Homo sapiens: one gene and its partners. The protein of the gene in region 1 interacts with the protein of each later gene in a biochemical or structural test. Each region holds a gene or a part of one and is shown in the gene's direction. Other genes may lie near its edges.

What was found.
Region 2: the proteins of PALS1 (region 1) and SLCO1C1 interact in a test that uses a peptide from one of them, tested with the Homo sapiens proteins (one large-scale study listed by IntAct).
Region 3: the proteins of PALS1 (region 1) and DGKK interact in a test that uses a peptide from one of them, tested with the Homo sapiens proteins (one large-scale study listed by IntAct).
Region 4: the proteins of PALS1 (region 1) and ARHGEF16 interact in a test that uses a peptide from one of them, tested with the Homo sapiens proteins (one large-scale study listed by IntAct).

What each region holds. Positions count from the first base shown.
Region 1 is NC_000014.9:67,330,830-67,336,312, forward strand, and holds the end of PALS1 (protein PALS1), read left to right. Parts: intron 1-1,950; coding exon 1,951-2,127; 3' UTR 2,128-5,232; downstream 5,233-5,483. UniProt on the Homo sapiens protein: Plays a role in tight junction biogenesis and in the establishment of cell polarity in epithelial cells.
Region 2 is NC_000012.12:20,735,841-20,740,331, forward strand, and holds part of SLCO1C1 (solute carrier organic anion transporter family member 1C1), read left to right. Parts: intron 1-1,266; coding exon 1,267-1,432; intron 1,433-4,343; coding exon 4,344-4,491. UniProt on the Homo sapiens protein: Mediates the Na(+)-independent high affinity transport of organic anions such as the thyroid hormones L-thyroxine (T4), L-thyroxine sulfate (T4S), and 3,3',5'-triiodo-L-thyronine (reverse T3, rT3) at the plasma membrane.
Region 3 is NC_000023.11:50,380,326-50,384,816, reverse strand, and holds part of DGKK (diacylglycerol kinase kappa), read left to right. Parts: coding exon 1-97; intron 98-552; coding exon 553-649; intron 650-2,213; coding exon 2,214-2,321; intron 2,322-4,491. UniProt on the Homo sapiens protein: Diacylglycerol kinase that converts diacylglycerol/DAG into phosphatidic acid/phosphatidate/PA and regulates the respective levels of these two bioactive lipids.
Region 4 is NC_000001.11:3,474,174-3,478,664, forward strand, and holds part of ARHGEF16 (rho guanine nucleotide exchange factor 16), read left to right. Parts: intron 1-534; coding exon 535-609; intron 610-1,796; coding exon 1,797-1,889; intron 1,890-3,701; coding exon 3,702-3,853; intron 3,854-4,250; coding exon 4,251-4,439; intron 4,440-4,491. UniProt on the Homo sapiens protein: Guanyl-nucleotide exchange factor of the RHOG GTPase stimulating the exchange of RHOG-associated GDP for GTP. May play a role in chemotactic cell migration by mediating the activation of RAC1 by EPHA2.

The sequences.
Region 1 (5,483 bases):
GAAAAAGATTTTAACTGATTTATAATTCCAGGTGGTCAGACCCTGAAAGATGTCAGTCTTTTCAAATTTGTTGAGCCTTATTTTATGGCCCAACATCTGTTCTTTCTTGGTGAATGTTCTGTGCACACCTGTTAGGATGTGTATTCCACAGTTTTTGGTGTAGAGGATGGTGTATCTGATTGTATTTATTCTACTTAAGTTTTTTTCTCCTGTGATATTTCTTTCTTTTTTTTGAGACAGAGTCTCACTCTGTCGCCCAGGCTGGAGTGCAGTGGCACAATCTTGGTTCACTGCAACCTCTGCTTCCTGGGTTTAAGTGATTCTCATGCCTCAGCCTCCCAAGTAGCTGGGATTACAGATGTGCACCATCACGCCTGGCTATTTTTTGTATTTTTAATAGAGACGGGGTTTTGCCCTGTTGGCCAGGCTGGTCTCAAGCTCCCGGCCCCATGTGATCCACCTACCTTGGCCTCCCAAAGTGCTGAGATTACAGGCGGGGGAGCCCCTGCGCTGGTATTGGTATTTCTAATAGTGCTTTATTACTCAATGATAGAAGTGCTGAAGTAAAACAGATTTTCAATTTTAACTCTATAAAATTGTGCTAAGAAAATGATGGCGTTACAAAATGTAACCAACCGGTTATCTAGTTGCATTCTGAATCTCTGAATCTGTTCTGCTAGTATGAAGGCTTGAGAGTGGCTATCTAGCAGTATGAACTTATTGTCAGTTTTGCCTAGTTCAGCTAAAAATTTTGAGCTAAAACATTTTGTTTCATCTTAGTCGTGGATTGTAATTTGAAAGAGAACTTCAGACATGAAGTACTAAATAAGTGATATAAGCCATTTTGGCACAAAATGGAATAACAATGCCTTAAATTTGATAAAAACTAGGTGGATTCGGGCTTTATCATTTTCATTTCAACTCCAATACCACAAAGTTTCAGTTCTCTGTGGAGTCCTAGAATGTTCTTCCAATAATCTTGAGCTTACGGTAGACATAAGTTTTAGCAAAAATGTCAGTGTGTTCAGTTACAGTGGTGAAGTAGATTCCCTGCTGGGAACAAAGGATTCTGTGTGCCATATTCAGATGTACAACATTCCAGAATGAGAGTCATGCAAGAAACTGCCTCAGGACAAGCCAGAGTTGTCATATTTTTAATATGTTTTCTTACTGTTACAGAAGTTCAAACAGTTGAATGATATAAATTGTTTTGTACTATGGGTCCAATATAGTATTGATGTGTGACTTTTATATCTGAGACATTTTGTCTTGAGTTTAAGTTAGTTGTCTTCATTGGCAGGGGTGATTTGAGGTGAGTTTCACTTTCTTGAACCCATGTGCCTGATAATTAGAGGGTTCAGGATAAGTTTTGCACATAGCCTTGCTGCCTGCTTATCTTTGTAAAATGGCCCTTTCCTTCAGTCAGTATTTTAAAGTAGGCTACTCTATATAGTTTCCCAAACTCTGGTAGGATACTTTTAACTCTCTGCAGCAGATAGTATAGGGCAAGGGCTCTTTACTAGAGCCAAAAGTAAATGGCATTTTAGGTCCTTGCTCCAACCAGAAAGGTTCACTCCATATTACAGATGTTACTATTAGGAAGAGGTTATAGTGTCTAGAATGTTTGAAAACAAATGTTTGTAGGGAAACAGTGTGTGTTCTTGAAGCTTGTAGTTTTGTTGGTGAGATAAGACAAAATATGTGAAAACCTAAATAGTGGTATAAAACAGGATATATTGAGTCCCAGATGGTTCATAATATGAGTCGTGAAGATGCCAAAGCAAAGGTAACCATTGTGGCCGTGACAGGGTTGGAAAGGAGCTCCTGAGGTTGGGAGAGACAGAAGGAAAGCTATGAAGGTCGCTCCTTGTTCTTTGGCCATCTCTGACTCATCCTATATTATTTGGTTAGGAAAGGAATTATCTCACAGTTTTTATCTTCTGTTTGCAGCCTGAAGAGTTGAGAGAAATCATTGAGAAGACAAGAGAGATGGAGCAGAACAATGGCCACTACTTTGATACGGCAATTGTGAATTCCGATCTTGATAAAGCCTATCAGGAATTGCTTAGGTTAATTAACAAACTTGATACTGAACCTCAGTGGGTACCATCCACTTGGCTGAGGTGAAAGAAACATCCATTCTGTGGCATGTTGGACTTGATCTGGCAAAAACTGCCAATAGGAGGACTGCCCGACACTGCAGCAAGATTGAGGATAAGATGGAAGGCAGCAGTATAAGCTGTAGATCTGTTCTTAGATCTCTTGAATTAGTGAGACGACAGTTCCCTTAGGCAGTTTGTGCATGGCATCCTTTATTCTCTATACATGGCTTTAGCGGTTCTTGCCTCATTTTGGGATTCTAAATGGAAGCTTTCAACAGAGCATTCCATTTTGTCCTGTTAAAACCTTTTGTTTTCACCTAAACCCTTTCTGCTTAGTTGTATCTCTGTGAAAAACTTGTATACACAAGCGTCCATGTCTCACACAAATATTGATGTGATTATTCTTAAGTGTTAAATCATTAACACTTAAATGACTTCATTGGGAATATTGAGCAGAGGGACTGTGCTTCTATGCACTGGGCAAGGCAGTATTTGCTTAGGAAACTAATTTAGTCATCAGAGATACTTTCCTAAAAAGGAAAAATAAAAAACAAAATGGTGCCACTTTGGGTTGAAGCTACTTTGTTAGGCTTGAATTCATTTATATGTCTTTTGATTCTTAAAAAAACAAAAAACATTCCATTAGAAGCACCAGTTTTTTTGCTCAGACTTTGTGGATCAGACTCTACACTCAACACACTCTAATCTACTTAAAGGTATACAAAATATGCTGATCTTTTTTAAATTATGATTTCCTGAATTTTTTTCTTAAGTCGTCTCAACTGATTTACTCACTTAGCTTCCCTTCCCTCATCAGCATAGTATAATAGAATGTATGTTACATTTTTATGAATGGCAGGTGTTCATTATAATCTGTATTGACTTAAAAAGTTTCTTCCTCATGATGCTAATAGTTTTTTGTATACATGGGAGGATAGCACATTTGACAGTTTTTGCATTTTTATGTATGAGCACAGTATCCTATGACTGTGCTACGTATATATAGGTAATAAACTGGAATTCTGTTGATGAATATAGCTGCTGTACTGTATATTAATATTTAATAGATCAACAAATGGTCATTGAAAACACTTGTTTAGCATTAGAATAAAATTATATATGTCCTTGGGAAATATTATGACAGTTGACTTTAAGATCAAAAGGAAGGGAAGACCTGAAAGTCATTTGAACATTTTAGGAAAAGAATATTGGAGAGAAAAAGGTATTAAATATATAGAAATAGGTTTTTAACCTAACAAGGTCTGCCTCTTATGACGAGAATGCAACAGCTTGGTAAATCATAAAAGAAACATTTAAGCTAATAGGATTTTCGTACTGTCTCTATAGCTGTAGCTTTAAAATTCAACGTATATAATTGGCATGGAAACTTAATTTGCAGTCTTTTCAAGCCTTTAGGATAGTGTGATGTGTAACAAACAACCTCAAATGTGAATGCCTTGATTTTATTTTTATGGTGACTTTAGCTACAGCATTTCCTATACCCAGAGCTAAACACTGGAATAATACTGACATCATTTAATTTAACATAAGCAATTATGTTTAAGGAGTAATTTGTGTCATGTACATATTTGATTGATTTTTTTTCTTCTACATAATTTTATTTGAACAAATGTAGACAGTTTATATGTCGCCTTTTTCTGTTCAAATTTGCATGGCCTATTAAGTTGGCTGGAGAGTGTTTTATGTGGAAATATTTTCAAGATAATGTTCCTTAGGAAGAAAATAACATTCTTGGGTTGAGGGAAGGAATGCCATACACTACTGTCTCTTCAGATCTGAAATACTCCAGTTTAGAGCCAGGAAATTTCACAGGTCACACCGATTTTTAGCATTAAAAACTAAGGAATATACTTAGCACTTACTTAATCTTTTCAGTTTTCCAGTTTACGTCTCAGGAATGAAGTGTAGTCTATGGTTGACAATGGAGTTTTGTGATCCTGCTTATTGTAACTGACAACTGTTTTCAACTCCAAGAGCTAAACTATTGGCAGTTCATGTTAAGTTAGAGTGAGGGTGTAGGTAGTGTCAGTGAGTGGCTCTTGTGCCTGCTGTAGACATTAGGCCTGCACTAGGGCCATGTGCTGTCAAGATTCAGGAACATGGCTTTAACAAGCAGATCTTGTATCAAGGCAGAGGTGATGCCATGCCATACTTTTAGGAAGTCTGAGATGATAAATATTTCAAGGTCAGTGAAGTCTATCAATCATTCTCCCCTTCCTCATCAGCAATGGTAGATAGAAATGTCCTAAACTTTTCTAAATCCTAGTGATGAGGATGTGCTGATATTCAACATAGTCCTTAAAGTGAAAACTGAGTTGTTGCTGACCTCCACAAAAGAATATGGAAAAAAGCCTTGCTGTACACCTAGTTGTACAGCCACTCTGGCCAATTCCATTTCCTGTCCCTCTGTGGTTCTGACTGGAGACCCCAGTGTGGGGGAGGTCTTACCATTTAATATAGAAATGATATCAATAACTAATGCTATGTACTTGGAAAATCCAAATAAGGAAGTTTTAGGTTGGTGCATAACTTTGTTTCTCAAATTTTCGTTGTCAGAACAAATGGAAGGAGAATATTATTTAGACTAATCCAGATTTGCTTTCTATGAAAATCTAATGTCTGGATTATCTTCCTTTTCTCATGGCCTAAGAAATAAGGATCAATAAGGAATGATTTGAATGTAATTTTGTGAATGTGTGGAAAATATAAAGCAGGGATTTAGCCTTAATAAAGGTAACCTTCTGACATCTGTTGTTAATCCCCCTTTGTACTCTTTTCCTGTATCTGCACTGTTATTTTGAGATGTCATACTGTACACTGTATTGTAAAAATAAAAAGTAAAATTATATTTCAAATTTTAAAAGCCACTAAGCAATTTCTCTTGCTATTTGCTCGGCCACTCAAGGTTTCCACACATGTAAAGACCACCCTCCTCTTCAAGTTTTTGCCAAAAGCAAGACCATTGGATCCTCCAGCTACAACACAAAATACTTTTTGATTTGTTCTTTACAGAGGGATAGTGCCCCCTGTTGGCACAGGTATAGGTAGGTCCTGTTTCCTTAATTATTAAAACCAACAACTAAGTGTATTAAAGATGGACAACGCAAGGCTGTGAACTTGAAAGTTTTCTGGAGAAGGAGGTATGTAATAATACTCAGGCAAATGGACCTTATGTGCAGCCTGGGATCTGAGGACACTGAGGCAGCATGTGAATTATTGGCAAATATATAACATATTTTGTTTCTCCAGTCTTCATTTCTCCTTTTTTTCTGCTGTACATCTCCCAAAGGTCATAAATCATACACCAACAAACAAAAAGTTTCTTACATATATACACCTGTCACCACAGTTCAGCTTTCC
Region 2 (4,491 bases), on another chromosome or scaffold:
GGAAATTTTGTTTCTTAGCTTGCTGTGTGACAGGAATTATTCCTGGTTCTGGACATATGGGAGTGAATACAAAAATAGTTCCTGCCTCTCTTGATTGTACAGTTCAGTGTATTTTTTGTTTGTTTAAGCTCCTCAGCTATCTTTATAAAAAATGGGAGGAAAGATATGAGGAATAAGCAAATAAATAAATTTGAAAATAAGGAGCAGAAAAAATGAAGTATGGAGGGCCAATGAATGGCACATATGGTGCAGATAGAAATGACATACCATTGCAAAAGTTCCTTTTGAGAAGAGTAGAGGAATATGAATAGCAAAAAAAAGGATAAAAGCAGAAGGATTAGGCCATTCAGGTGACAGAAAAAAAAGTGAGGGAGAGAGAATACTGGGAGAGATGAAGGATAAATATAAAAGCGAATGGCAGAGAACAAAAAAAAATGAAGGAGAAAAGAAAGAATGCAATCACAATTTTGTGAAATAACTCAAAAAAACCAATTTTGGGGGGGGGTGCAAATTTTGTCTCATTAATGTTTGTAACCATCTCCTATTCTCCCGGAGCTAGCACTTAGTAGGCTTCCAGTAAAATTTTATCAACAAATAAATGGGTAAGTCATTGAACTTACTTGTGAATTTGAGTAAGAAAGGATGCTATAAGATATGAAAGAGCACTATACACTGGGAGGATACACAGGAGAAAGGTTGAATGAACTGGGAATGCACTTGTTGGTTACACACATGCAAGAGGACATGTAACTCCTGCAAACACTGAAAGAGAATTAACTGATAACTGATTGGCTATTTTTCCTTTTACTGGACCATTAGTAATATCCATTCCACTCATACTTAGACAACAATTCTGAATGAAATTTGCACACACACAACACACACACACACCCCACCTGTGATGCATTGAAGTAGTGTCATAAATTGCTCTAAAAGTTTACTTTTCTACCTTGTTAGCTATTTTTATACACCTTTGCACAGAAGTATATTAGAAGATCCTAGAGGCTGTAGACTGAAAGCTATAAGCTAAGAACTGGACATCATGTGAATTTGTAAACCTCTAAAGATAACTTTCAAGAGAAAGCTGTTTATTAGTAAACTCACATTTCATGACCAGAAGCTGCCATTTCTGATGACAACTGTGTTTCTAAAAGGCAAATTTTGTTCATAGTATCATTTATATCACTCAAGAACATTGATTTTTTGAAAATATTCGGGTGCTACCTGCTAAGAGGTAATATTTTATATTGTTATATTTCTTTTCAGAACCAAACCTGTCTCTTATCATGAACGAGCTCTCTTTTCAGATTGCAACTCAAGATGCAAATGTTCAGAGACAAAATGGGAACCCATGTGCGGTGAAAATGGAATCACATATGTATCAGCTTGTCTTGCTGGTTGTCAAACCTCCAACAGGAGTGGAAAAAATATTGTAAGAAATCACCTCTCAAGTATATGGCGATGGTCCTGTTACAATATAAACAACAAAACTCTATGGGGGCTCACAGCAGACCACTACTAGTAGGAGGCTTGCCTCTTACCTCTGCCTGGTCCTTTTTTGTAGAAAAAGAAAATGTTATAACCATTCCTAGTGGTACTGGAGTTGCTGAAAAAATTAGGGTGAGAATTAGAGTCATCAAATAGGGTGGAAGAGATTTTGTAATTATGTAGTCTATTTCTCTCATTTTGCTTATAAGAAGTGTTAGCCCTGAATTAGAATGTCTGTCGTATGATCATCATAATAAGATATGCTTTCAGATCCATGTCCCCTGGCCCTAAGATCCGTGGTCCTTGGAGGTTTTAGGGAATGAACAAATAGAGGCCAGTATTAGGAGGCTTAGCTCCAGAGATTCTAGACCTTGGGGTCAGGGATCTGATAATGAGGAGGTTGATGGTTCTAGGACAACTTTGGAAAATCAAGCCAATTTGTATAATAATGAAAGGGCAGGTGGGCTGGAATGGAGGGTTTCCATAGGGCAGAAGAGGGAGATGAGGTAGGAAATATAGGTAGGAATCTATTTTAGTCAGTCCAGGCTGCTATAACAAATATACCATAGAATGGGTGGCTTAAACAACAAACATTTATTTCTCATAGTTCTGGATGATGGGAAGTCCAAGATCAAGGTGCCAGCAGAACTGGTTCCTAGTGAGGACCCACTTTCTGGTTTGCAGATGACCATCTTCACCTTTTATCCTCACATGGCAGAGAGCAGACAGGGAGAGACAGGTCTCCTGTCTCTTCTTATAAGGGCACTAAAATCACATTCATGAGGGCTACACCCTCATGAACTAATTACCTCCTAAATGCTTTACTCCAAATACCATCACATTGAAGGTTAGGATTTCAACATATGAATTTTGGGAAAATATTCAATCCTTAACAGAAAGCAATTGTGAAGGATGTAAAGTACTTCAATCATTAACAGATTCACCCTTCTCAGCACACCTTTCCATTCCTGTCCCAAACAGACTCTTCCTTATCCTTGCTCTCTGAGACTGCTTTCTATTTGTGACTGATTAAATTTGCCTTTATTTGACAATCCTAGAGGGCAGAAAATTAGACCACCCATGTATCTCATTTATTTATATATCCTTATCAACTGGATATGAATACTTAGGCTGTATATCCACAGATATACAGTTAAGTTTGTTAATTTACTCTGTTCATTGTATTATTATTTTGACTTATTTACAGCAGAAAGGATTGGTTTCTAGCAACAATGAATAAGACTACCTACTCATCTGAAACATGTTTTCATGCTTCTCTTTTTTTCTTTTCTTTGCTTTCTTCCTTTGTTATTTTTCTTTCAGCTACTGTTATTTTTGCTCACAGCTGCATGAAGGTTTTTTTGTAATGAGAGCTACCATTTATAAAAGACATTACAAGGAAAGGTTAAAGATTGGTGTTAAAAGAACAAAATTACATTTAAATCTCATGGTCCTGAAATAATTTGCATTATTTTCAGTATTTTCTTCATGTGAGAACTGAGGCACTGAGATACAAAGGACTTGCTTAACTCATTTATCTAGTGAGCGACCAGAATTAAGATTCAAAGGTTTCAACTTGACATTACAAAAAATCTATATTGCCACTCTTTCTAGAAAAGTAAATGCCAGCTTTATTTATGGTCTAAAAACTCACAAACTCTTTTGTGATTAAAAATGATAACATTATATATATGCATTCATAAATAAAATTTACAGAAATAAACTATTGAGGGGTTATACAAATTGTCTCTCTTCAGTCAAAATTTAGTTGAGTTTTATGCACCAGAATTATTTTTTTCTCATAGCCACTGTAAATTATGTCATATCCTCAAATTGTTCCCATTTACTTAACTAAGTTTTATCAAATGCCTAAAATGAGAGTCTATTCCATTCCCCAGTTGCATAATAACAAAGCAGCAGTTTCTGCTTTCATGGAGGTTACATTCTGTTGGGAAAGTATGTTTTAAAAATAAGTAAATACAGGATATCCTGATAGGTAGTAAGAAGCACTGTAAAAAAAAGACATACATTAGAATAAGAAGATGGAGAGATGGGAGTTGTTTTTTTTTGTTTTTTTTTTTAAATGGATAGTCATAGAAGGTCTCTATTAAAACCTCTAAACGGAGAACTAAAGTATGGACGCCAGCTGTGTAATCACCGAAGAGAAGAGCTGCCCGGGCAGAGAAAATAGCAGGGCCGTGAGGCATGGATGAACTTGCCAGGTTTGAGGGGATGTTTGGAAAGGGCAAAATGGGGCCTTTGCAAGGGTCATGTGTGTGGCTTACACAGAAGAAGAGAGGGAAGATCACTGAATGGTGAGATTAGAGTGGCATCCAGGTGCTACATGATGGAGAAAGTGTAAACTGTTATAAGGATGTGGGGTTTCATGCAAGTATGATGAGAAACCACTGGCAGGTTGAGGGTAGTGATGCAGTCTGACTGCCATGTTTAAAGGTTCACTTTACTTACTGGGTGGAAAGCAGATACTAGCTAGATAAGATTGGAAACAAGTTGCGCATAAAGGGAGCATTGTAACAATCTAGGCAAGAAATCATGGTTACTTAGCATTGGAAGTGGTAGCGAAGGAGGTAAGGTATGGTTAGATTAGGCAGGATTTGCTGGGAGATTGTTGTACAGGATTAGTAGTTTGTAGATAGTCATCTGCTCTTTAGATAATGAAATGTTGTATCTATATAGATTTTGCTTTGCTCAATATACTGTAATACAAAAAAATAAAAGAATATTTCCTCATTGTTTACATAATGCATGGCTACGGTAAACATTTTTAACATAACTGTCTTTAACTTTATTTAAATGTTACTGAAATAATTGGACTTTTCCCTATCGTGTTACAGATATTTTACAACTGCACTTGTGTGGGAATTGCAGCTTCTAAATCCGGAAATTCCTCAGGCATAGTGGGAAGATGTCAGAAAGACAATGGATGTCCCCAAATGTTTCTGTATTTCCTTGTAATTTCAGTCATCACATCCTATACTTTAT
Region 3 (4,491 bases), on another chromosome or scaffold:
GAGGAAAGCAGACAGACAATATCTGTTAAGAACTTTAGTTCAACTTTCTTCCTGGAAGATGACCCAGAAGATATTAACCAGACAAGCCCACGACGCCGTAAGGATCTTTCTGTCTTCTTCCCTTATTCTAGCCTTCGTCACTGTTGTTTAGCTCCCAAAGAATAAATATGTATTTTTTATGCATCCTCTTTTAGCCATAATCCTGCAGTAGATACCCCTCCGTCTTTCCCAGAAACTCACACTATAAGATCCCATGCCAATGTCCAGAGTAATGACCCCATTAGGAACATTGAAGAGGCTGGCCTGATGAAATACAAGATTTGAAGTTGTTTTCACTGCCAGCAAGCAAGCAGCCCAGCTTTATTCTTCTCTCAGTGGAAGTCCCTATCCATCCAAGAGGATCCCTCTTTGGAATTAGAACCCTTAATATTATCTAGGAGAAAGTCACTGAGCTTGACCCTGCCTCCACAGAGAAAATAGGGCGAAATACAAGTGAGGGGAAAGGGCTTTTTTGTTTGTATCCGTCACCCAAGTGATGTCTTTTGTGTCTAGGTTCTCGTCGTGGCACTTTGTCTTCTATATCTTCTCTCAAAAGTGAGGACCTGGACAACCTTAACTTGGATCACTTACATTTTACACCTGAATCTATGTAAGTATTTAACTCTATCACCTTTTAATGGCTTCTTTCTTTCTCTTGTTAAGAGCACAATCTTAGGATATCCATAGTCAAATCCTTTCTCTTACTTACTAGCTGTGTCACCTACGCAAGTGACTAAACCAGTGTGAGCCTCAGTTTTCTCATATGTAAAATGAAGACCATTGTAGAACTTGCATCATGGGTTTGCTGTATTTATTACATTTATATATGAAAAGTACTTGCACTGAGTAGTGCTTGGCACCCATAATTAAGTGTTATATGCATTTGCAGTTATTATTGTTATTATTATAAATAATTAATAAATGTTAGTTGTTGTTATTACAGAGGACTTGCTTTTTTTCACTGTTGCCCTTAACAGTAAATGGTTGAAGATACTAAAAACTAAAATGGTCACTAGGGGACTAGGCAGCAAATCTAAGGACATCTGTCTCACCAGTTCTCCCTCTTTAGAATATCGGCAGCAGCCAAGTTCTGCCACACTCACTCATTCTGAGTTCCATTAAGAAGATCAGTTTGGACATTAGTTAGAGAAACTCCAATCTCTGGACTGTGGTTGAGGGAGGCAAATCTCATGTGAGAGATGTAAGGTCAGTATGGTAATGAATAAAAAAGTAATCTAAGATTAAACAGCTAAACTGTATCCATTTAATTTCTCAAAAGGACACAGCTAGAAATTATTTATGTTTTCTTAAATAATTTATTTAAGAAAACAATTTTTATTCCTGTCTCCAACCCGCATTCTTGCCCCCACACTTCACCATTGGCTCAAATTTATGTCTGAGCTCTCATGGATCTACCTAATGAATTTTGATCAATAGTGCACTGGCAAAGTGTTTAACAACCTCCTCTCTTGGGGGAGAAAGCCCTGATTCATTTATGGTGTAAACCCTTCCACCATGGCCTATTTAAGTTAGTGATATAATGCCATTGAATCTGGAGTTGGAAAGAGATATGCATAATCAGTTTACATGAGCTGGTGCCAACTGGCTATGGCACACCACTGGTTTTGATGCTGACACCCTAGATGGACACAGGAGACTTGACAAATAATTTGGCTTTTTTGTTATGTACATATCTACCCTCTTTTATCAGTCTTTCCTTCCAAATGTGTGGTCATTTTCCCCTTTGATGTCGGACATCACTGAGAGCAGTTGTGCAGACTTAACTGTCATGGCACGTTTGTGTCTAGGATATTCAAAAGTTCTTTATAGGAGTAAACAGTATTTCCCTTAATACTACATATGAAGAAAATATGGGCCACTCATACATAAGGCCTCCAAAGATGACTAAAATCATCAATGTTGCTTCTTTATTATGAGTTCCAATCCCACTGAAGCTTCCCAACTGGCGAGGCACTCCCTCTTACAGCTAATAAGCTAGTTGTTCACACAAAAGGATATCTACATGTGCCTCTCAAAAATGTTATAGTTAGTGCCCAGTGTGGAGGGGGCCTTCCCTCACTGGTTTTCCATCATGCAGATTCATCTTCATGCCCAATTGATAGCGGCACTTCTTTCCTGCACCAATGTCTGTCCTCTTCTTTGAATAATTTCAGACGCTTCAAAGAAAAATGTGTCATGAACAACTACTTCGGAATTGGACTGGATGCTAAAATTTCTCTGGACTTCAACACCAGAAGAGATGAACACCCAGGGCAATACAAGTAAGGAAAAGAAACTCCCTTCCCTACATGCAAACACACTATCACAATACACATACGTATTCCTACATTCTCTACCTCTCAGACAAGCAACAGAAAGAAAGGGACCCACTGGAAGTAAAATGCATTGGCCCCAAGACTAGTCTAGCGGGACAGTGTGTGCCAAATTTTGGATGACTGCACTGGCATCCTAAACTTGAGCTGCCTTCAAATCCAGACCTGTGGATTTCTGTGTAAACACAGCTACCTGTGTTACTGTTACTGACAACAGATTATGTTGACTCAATTTAGCAAATCGCCCACCTTTGTTCTGTCTGTGAAAGTTTAACCAGGTTTCAGTAGTGGCTTCAGATCTGTTTTCACTTGACAAAGTTGCAAAGTATCAAACATCCCTCTATTTGTTTTTGGTGTTCCTAACCTGGTTCCCCTGAACCCGTTAATTTTACCCTATCCAGTGTTGGCCTGCATGGCACCTTCTCGCACTTTCATACTTCAGACAAGGCCTAAGTCAGTCTCAGAGTTCTTGTGGTACATTGAAGCTATAAGTAAAAAGTGTGACACCCCACCCCACAACACCCCACCCTTGCCACCACCACTAGAACCTCTTTCTCAAAGCAGGCCTGGGCTGAGAAACAGGAACTTTGTCAGATATGTGATTTGCAAATATTTTCTCCCAGTCTCTTGCTGGTCTTTTCATTTTCTTAGTGGTATCTTTGAAATACAAAAGTATTGAATTCTAAGGCGGTCCAATTGATCAGTTTTTTTCTTTATGGACCATGCTTTTGGTGCCATCTGTAAGAAATCTTTGCCTAATCTGAGATCTTAAAAATTTGCTCCTAAGTTTTCTTCTAAAGTTTGTATTGTTTTAGCTCTTATTAATACATTTAAGTGTATGATCTACTTTGAGTTAATTTTTACGTATAGTGTGAGGGTCTAAGGTAAGAGTCTAAGTTTATCTTTTTGCCTGTGGATATCTAATTATCTCACCACCATTTTAATTTATTTATTTGTTTATTTTTTTTATTTTCTTGGAGACGGAGTCTTGTTCTGTCGCCTAGGCTGGAGTGCAGTGGCATGATCTCGGCTCACTGCAACCTCTGCCTCCTGGGTTCAAGTAATTCTCCTGCCTCAGCCTCCCAAGTAGCTGGGACTACTGGTGCATGATACCATGCTTGACTAATTTTTTGTAATTTAGTAGAGACGGAGTTTCACCATTTTGCCCAGGCTGGTCTCGAATTCCTGAGGTCAGGCAATCCGCCCGCCTCAGCTTCCCAAAGCGATAGGATTATAGGCATGAGCCACCGCGCCCGGATCTAGAGCCATTTTTCAAAACAGCTATCCTTTCCCCAGTGAATCGTGTTGGCACCTTTGTCAAAAATCAATTGACCACAAATGCAAGGGTTTATTTCTGGACTCTCACTTCTGTTCTATTTATTTATGTGTCTATCCTATGCAAGTACCACACTATCTTGATAACTATAGCTTTACAGTAGTTTTTGAAATTGGGAGATGAAAGTCCCCCACTTGATTCTTTTTTTCAGAATTGGTTTGTTCTAGGTATTGTACATTTTCATATACCTAAACTCCTATTTTTGTAGATGAGAACACCAAAGTGCCCAGAGAATGAATGGTTTAAACAGTGTCTCAATAATTTTGTGCTAGCCTTCTGACATTTCAAAACTCATTCCATGTGATGATGGCTCATTTCTGTGGCTCTACTTTACAAGCTCCAAGTAAACTATATCCAGCCTTTCTAGTGATCGTAAGTGCCCCACCTATTTCTATCAGAGATTCCACAGTCAACAAGACGCTGTCCTCCCCACCTCCACCTCAAGTCACCTGATATCCTTTCCTGTCTCCTATTTTTCTCCACTGGCTCCTCCTCTAAAATCTCCCTACAAGCTTAGATCTGTTCCATGGCATTGAATTAGGCATTTAGTATATGGATCTGGTGTTTGGAAAAGTACTTCACTTTGCCAGAAAAGTTGCTGCTTCAAAAAAAATTGCACTCTAAGAGTCACGTGTTTCAAATGAAATTGATTCCAAGCAGCTGAAATCTCCTGGAGTAGCACAACTAGGGTAGCTGGTGTGTACCAGCCAGCTACGCTCATAGCTTTTTATGAGCATTGATGTCTGAATATAGCCTGTTTCTTCCAAGTCTGGACCAATATTG
Region 4 (4,491 bases), on another chromosome or scaffold:
CATGCACACACAGGCACTGCACACACATGCACCCGGTGCACACACATACACGTGGATGCACACACATGCATGCACATGGTGCACAGGCATATTCACACATGTGCATGCTGCCCATACACACAGCCCCGCACATGGCAGGACTGAGCTAAGCTTCCTGAGGCTACACATGGCAGGGTTGCCCAAGCCAAACAGAACCTCAAACTCCTGGGGGCCCCAGGGATGTGCAGAAATGGGGCTGCCAGGGGGCCTCCACTGACGATTCCCCAAGTTGGATGGAGATGGCCGAGGATGGGAAGGGAAGGGTTCCAGGCAGGGGTGCTAGCTCCTGTTCCCACTCAACCTGGCCTGACCTGGCAGAGCTCCAGGTGGTGCAGAGGCCGTTCAGGGGCTGTACGTGCTGTGGGGCCCTGCAGGAGCCCCCTGGGGGCAGCTGTTGACCACCCTGCAGCCCCACACGGGGTCTGGCGTTGGTGGGAGCCTCCACACCTGGGATGCCAGAGGGGACTTTCTGTCCCATGTCTGTTGTCCATCCAGACGCTCTGCCTCAAGACCCAGGGCCACTCCGAAAGGTACAAGGCTGCCAGCCGTGCACTGAAGGCCATCAGCAAGGTAAGATGGGGCCTGGCCCCAGCCCTACCCGAGTCCTGTACCCCGACCCTGTCCCCACCCAACCCCACCCTACCCGATGGCATAGGGCTGGCTTCCCCTACCTTCCAGGGCAGCGAGTGTTCTCAGATTATCCATCCCAAGCCTTTCACAGCGCTGACAGGGAAACTGAGGCCCAGAGGTTCCCAGATTATCCATCCCAAGCCTTTCACAGCGCTGACAGGGAAACTGAGGCCCAGAGGTTCCCAGATTATCCATCCCAAGCCTTTCACAGCGCTGACAGGGAAACTGAGGCCCAGAGGTTCCCAGATTATCCATCCCAGGCCTTTCACGGCGCTGACAGGGAAACTGAGGCCCAGAGGTTCCCAGATTATCCATCCCAGGCCTTTCACGGCGCTGACAGGGAAACTGAGGCCCAGAGGTTCCCAGATTATCCATCCCAGGCCTTTCACGGCGCTGACAGGGAAACTGAGGCCCAGAGGTTCCCAGATTATCCATCCCAGGCCTTTCACGGCGCTGACAGGGAAACTGAGGCCCAGAGGTTCCCAGATTATCCATCCCAGGCCTTTCACGGCGCTGACAGGGAAACTGAGGCCCAGAGGTTCCCAGATTATCCATCCCAGGCCTTTCACAGCGCTGACAGGGAAACTGAGGCCCAGAGGTTCCCAGATTATCCATCCCAGGCCTTTCACAGCGCTGACAGGGAAACTGAGGCCCAGAGGTTCCCAGATTATCCATCCCAGGCCTTTCACAGCGCTGACAGGGAAACTGAGGCCCAGAGGTTCCCAGATTATCCATCCCAGGCCTTTCACAGCGCTGACAGGGAAACTGAGGCCCAGAGGTTCCCAGATTATCCATCCCAGGCCTTTCACAGCGCTGACAGGGAAACTGAGGCCCAGAGGTTCCCAGATTATCCATCCCAGGCCTTTCACAGCGCTGACAGGGAAACTGAGGCCCAGAGGTTCCCAGATTATCCATCCCAAGCCTTTCACAGTGCTGACAGGGAAACTGAGGCCTAGAGCCAGTGGAGCTCTCACACAGTTGATGAGCCCGTGGCACGGCTGGTCCAGGGCAGGCACTGTGGGCAGCCAGAGGCTGGCTGGGCAGGTGTCCTGGGCACACTGTGGGCCGTGTGGGCTGTGCCAGGGCCCTGTAGCACCAGCCTCTCACACGGGAACCATGCCCTGCAGCTGGTGAGGCAGTGCAACGAGGGGGCCCACAGGATGGAGCGCATGGAGCAGATGTACACGCTGCACACACAGCTGGACTTCAGCAAGGTCAAGGTAGGTGGCCCCGGACATCAGGGCCACTCGGACCACTTCCCACTCAGCCCTCCCTGCTGGCCTGCGTGTGAGGTCACACCCCTGAGCCTGAGGGCTGGAGAGTGGGTGCCTGCCCTCATGAGGCCTGGGGGCTGGGCCTCCTAGGGCTGGTGGCTCTGGTCTCTCCAGGCCTCAGTCTCCCGATCTGGGAGCGCCCCTTGTGGACCCCTCCCCTAATCCCACTGGGTGGGCCTCTGTGGCCCTTGCCCCATCCCCAGGACTGCACCGGCAAAGGGTAGACCCTAGGCCCTGAGTGACCAAGCCCAGGGGGCAACAGGAGTGGCCCTGTCAGTGCACTTGCCTGGGGCCAGCGCTCCTTGCTGGCCCCTCAGGGGCTGGGCAGGGCCTGAGGACAGAGCGGAGGGGACAGGGTGATTTCAGGGCCAGCCCAGATTCCATGTTTCCCAGTGAGGCTTGGATTCTGGGTAGGGTGAAATATTTCCAGCCCAGGCCCGGGCAGCCCTAGTCCCTGCCACAAACGGGCAGGGCTCATACCTCTCCCTCCAGAGCCCCCCACCCACGATCCCACACACTGGCCGCATCCTCTGTTGTCCTGGGACAGCCCAGGGCCCCTCCCCTAAGGCGGGCCCAGGTGGGTCTCCTGTCCTGGTGCCCCATCCAGGGGGTGTCCTTCAGGGTGGAGCAAGAAGTGGGTGACAGGCCACCAGCCACCCTCACTCAGGGCCACGGACAACCAAGTAAGGGTGCGGGGTCCCAGCTGGGGGAGGGGGCTCCCGGGGTGGGTCAGGGCGGGCTGCCTGGGGCAGGCGTCAGGGCGGTGACTTCGCGCCGCTGTCGCTGAGCCCACACCCGTGCAGCCCTCACGCTTGTCTCCCTGATCCTCTCGAGTCTGGGGTGTAACGCCTGCCCCTGCCAGAGCAAGGACCCCCTCCCAGGCCTGGTCCACCCCTGAGTGGGGCTCTCACCCCCACATGGTCTTGAAGTTGGTCTTGGAAACGGGTGTGGGGGTGGGGAGAACAGGCCCATCCAGGAGGGAGGGTGGTGGCAGAGGCCGGGAGCGGGAGGTGCCGGGGGCTCTGAGTCTGTAGTGGGCACAGGTGGGGAAGCCGGGGCCCACAGGGAGCAGGTGAGGAGGTGTCAACAGTCGCTGAGGAGCGGGAGCTGGTGGGCAGGCTCCTCATTCCCACTCTGCCCTCCCCCCCACCCTGTACTGCCACCCCCTACTGCGACACCCATCCCCGTCACCCCCACACTACCCACCCCATCACCCCCACACTGCCCACCCTCTGGCCTTTGCCATCCTTCTGCCCCCCACTGACTCCAGCAACTCAGCACCAGGCAGCAGGGAGGATGTTCTGTGGCTCAGGAGCCAGGAAAGGCCCCAGACGTGGAGCGTGGCCATCACGGGTGGGCCTGCCCCTGCCAACCCTCCCTCGGGGCTGAGCAGGTCCTTGTGCCTAGGAGGCCCAGCGTCTGCGTAATTGCCACGGAGGGGTGAGGTGTGTGTGGAGGCTTCCCCAGCACTGGCCTTCGAGTCCTGGCTTGGGTGAAATGTTCAGTGGTCACCCAGCCCTGGGCTATCGGGCAGGGTCTGGTCCGGCCTGGCGCACCTCGATTTGAGGCCCGGACACATTGTGCCCCTTTCCTCTGTCCAGCCCCGACTGAGGGCAGCCAGCTGGTCACCCAGTCCAGAGGCAGGAGTCAGTCCCACCTGGTGCTATGCGTCCTTGACCCCCTGGGGACCTGCTCACCCCGGCTCTGTCCCCCCCAGTCCCTCGCACTGATCTCCGCCTCCCGGCTCTGTCCCCCCAGTCCCTCCCACTGATCTCTGCCTCCCGGTGGCTGCTGAAGCGCGGAGAGCTGTTCTTAGTGGAAGAAACCGGACTTTTTCGAAAAATTGCCAGCCGGCCAACGTGCTACCTTTTCCTGTTCAACGATGTCCTGGTTGTGACCAAGAAGAAGAGGTGGCCTTAGGGCAGGAGGGTGTGGGGAGCCCCACTCCATGGACACTGGACCGCTGGCCCTGGGGCAGGAGGGTACAGGGAGTTGGCCCTGAGCCCCTCTGACCTCAGAGCCGAGGCGCGGCTTCCACTCGGCACATGCTCTACGTGACACTCGGGGGCAGGTGGCGCTCGCTGTGCAGCCTCTGACCTCCTCTGCAGACCTGGGTCTGCCGGTGATAGCCACGAGGAGGACTCGAAAGCCATGGCCTCTGTTCTGTGGGACGCGGGAACTCTTGGAGCCCGTCCGTGGCTGCCTCCCCACCACTGCAGGGGAGCCGGGTGGGACCTGGACGGGAGCCCAGCAGCACTGGGTAGGAGCTGGGTGGGACCGTCCCACCGACTGCCCGTGTCTCCACAGCGAGGAGAGCTACATGGTCCAGGACTACGCCCAGATGAACCACATCCAGGTGGAGAAGATAGAGCCGTCTGAGCTCCCTCTGCCCGGGGGCGGCAACCGTAGCTCCTCCGTGCCCCACCCCTTCCAGGTGACCCTGCTTCGCAACAGCGAGGGCCGCCAGGAGCAGCTCCTGCTCTCCTCGGACTCCGCGTAAGTGGGCTCCCGGGAGGGCTGTTCCCAGGCCACAGGCACATTAGCTCCA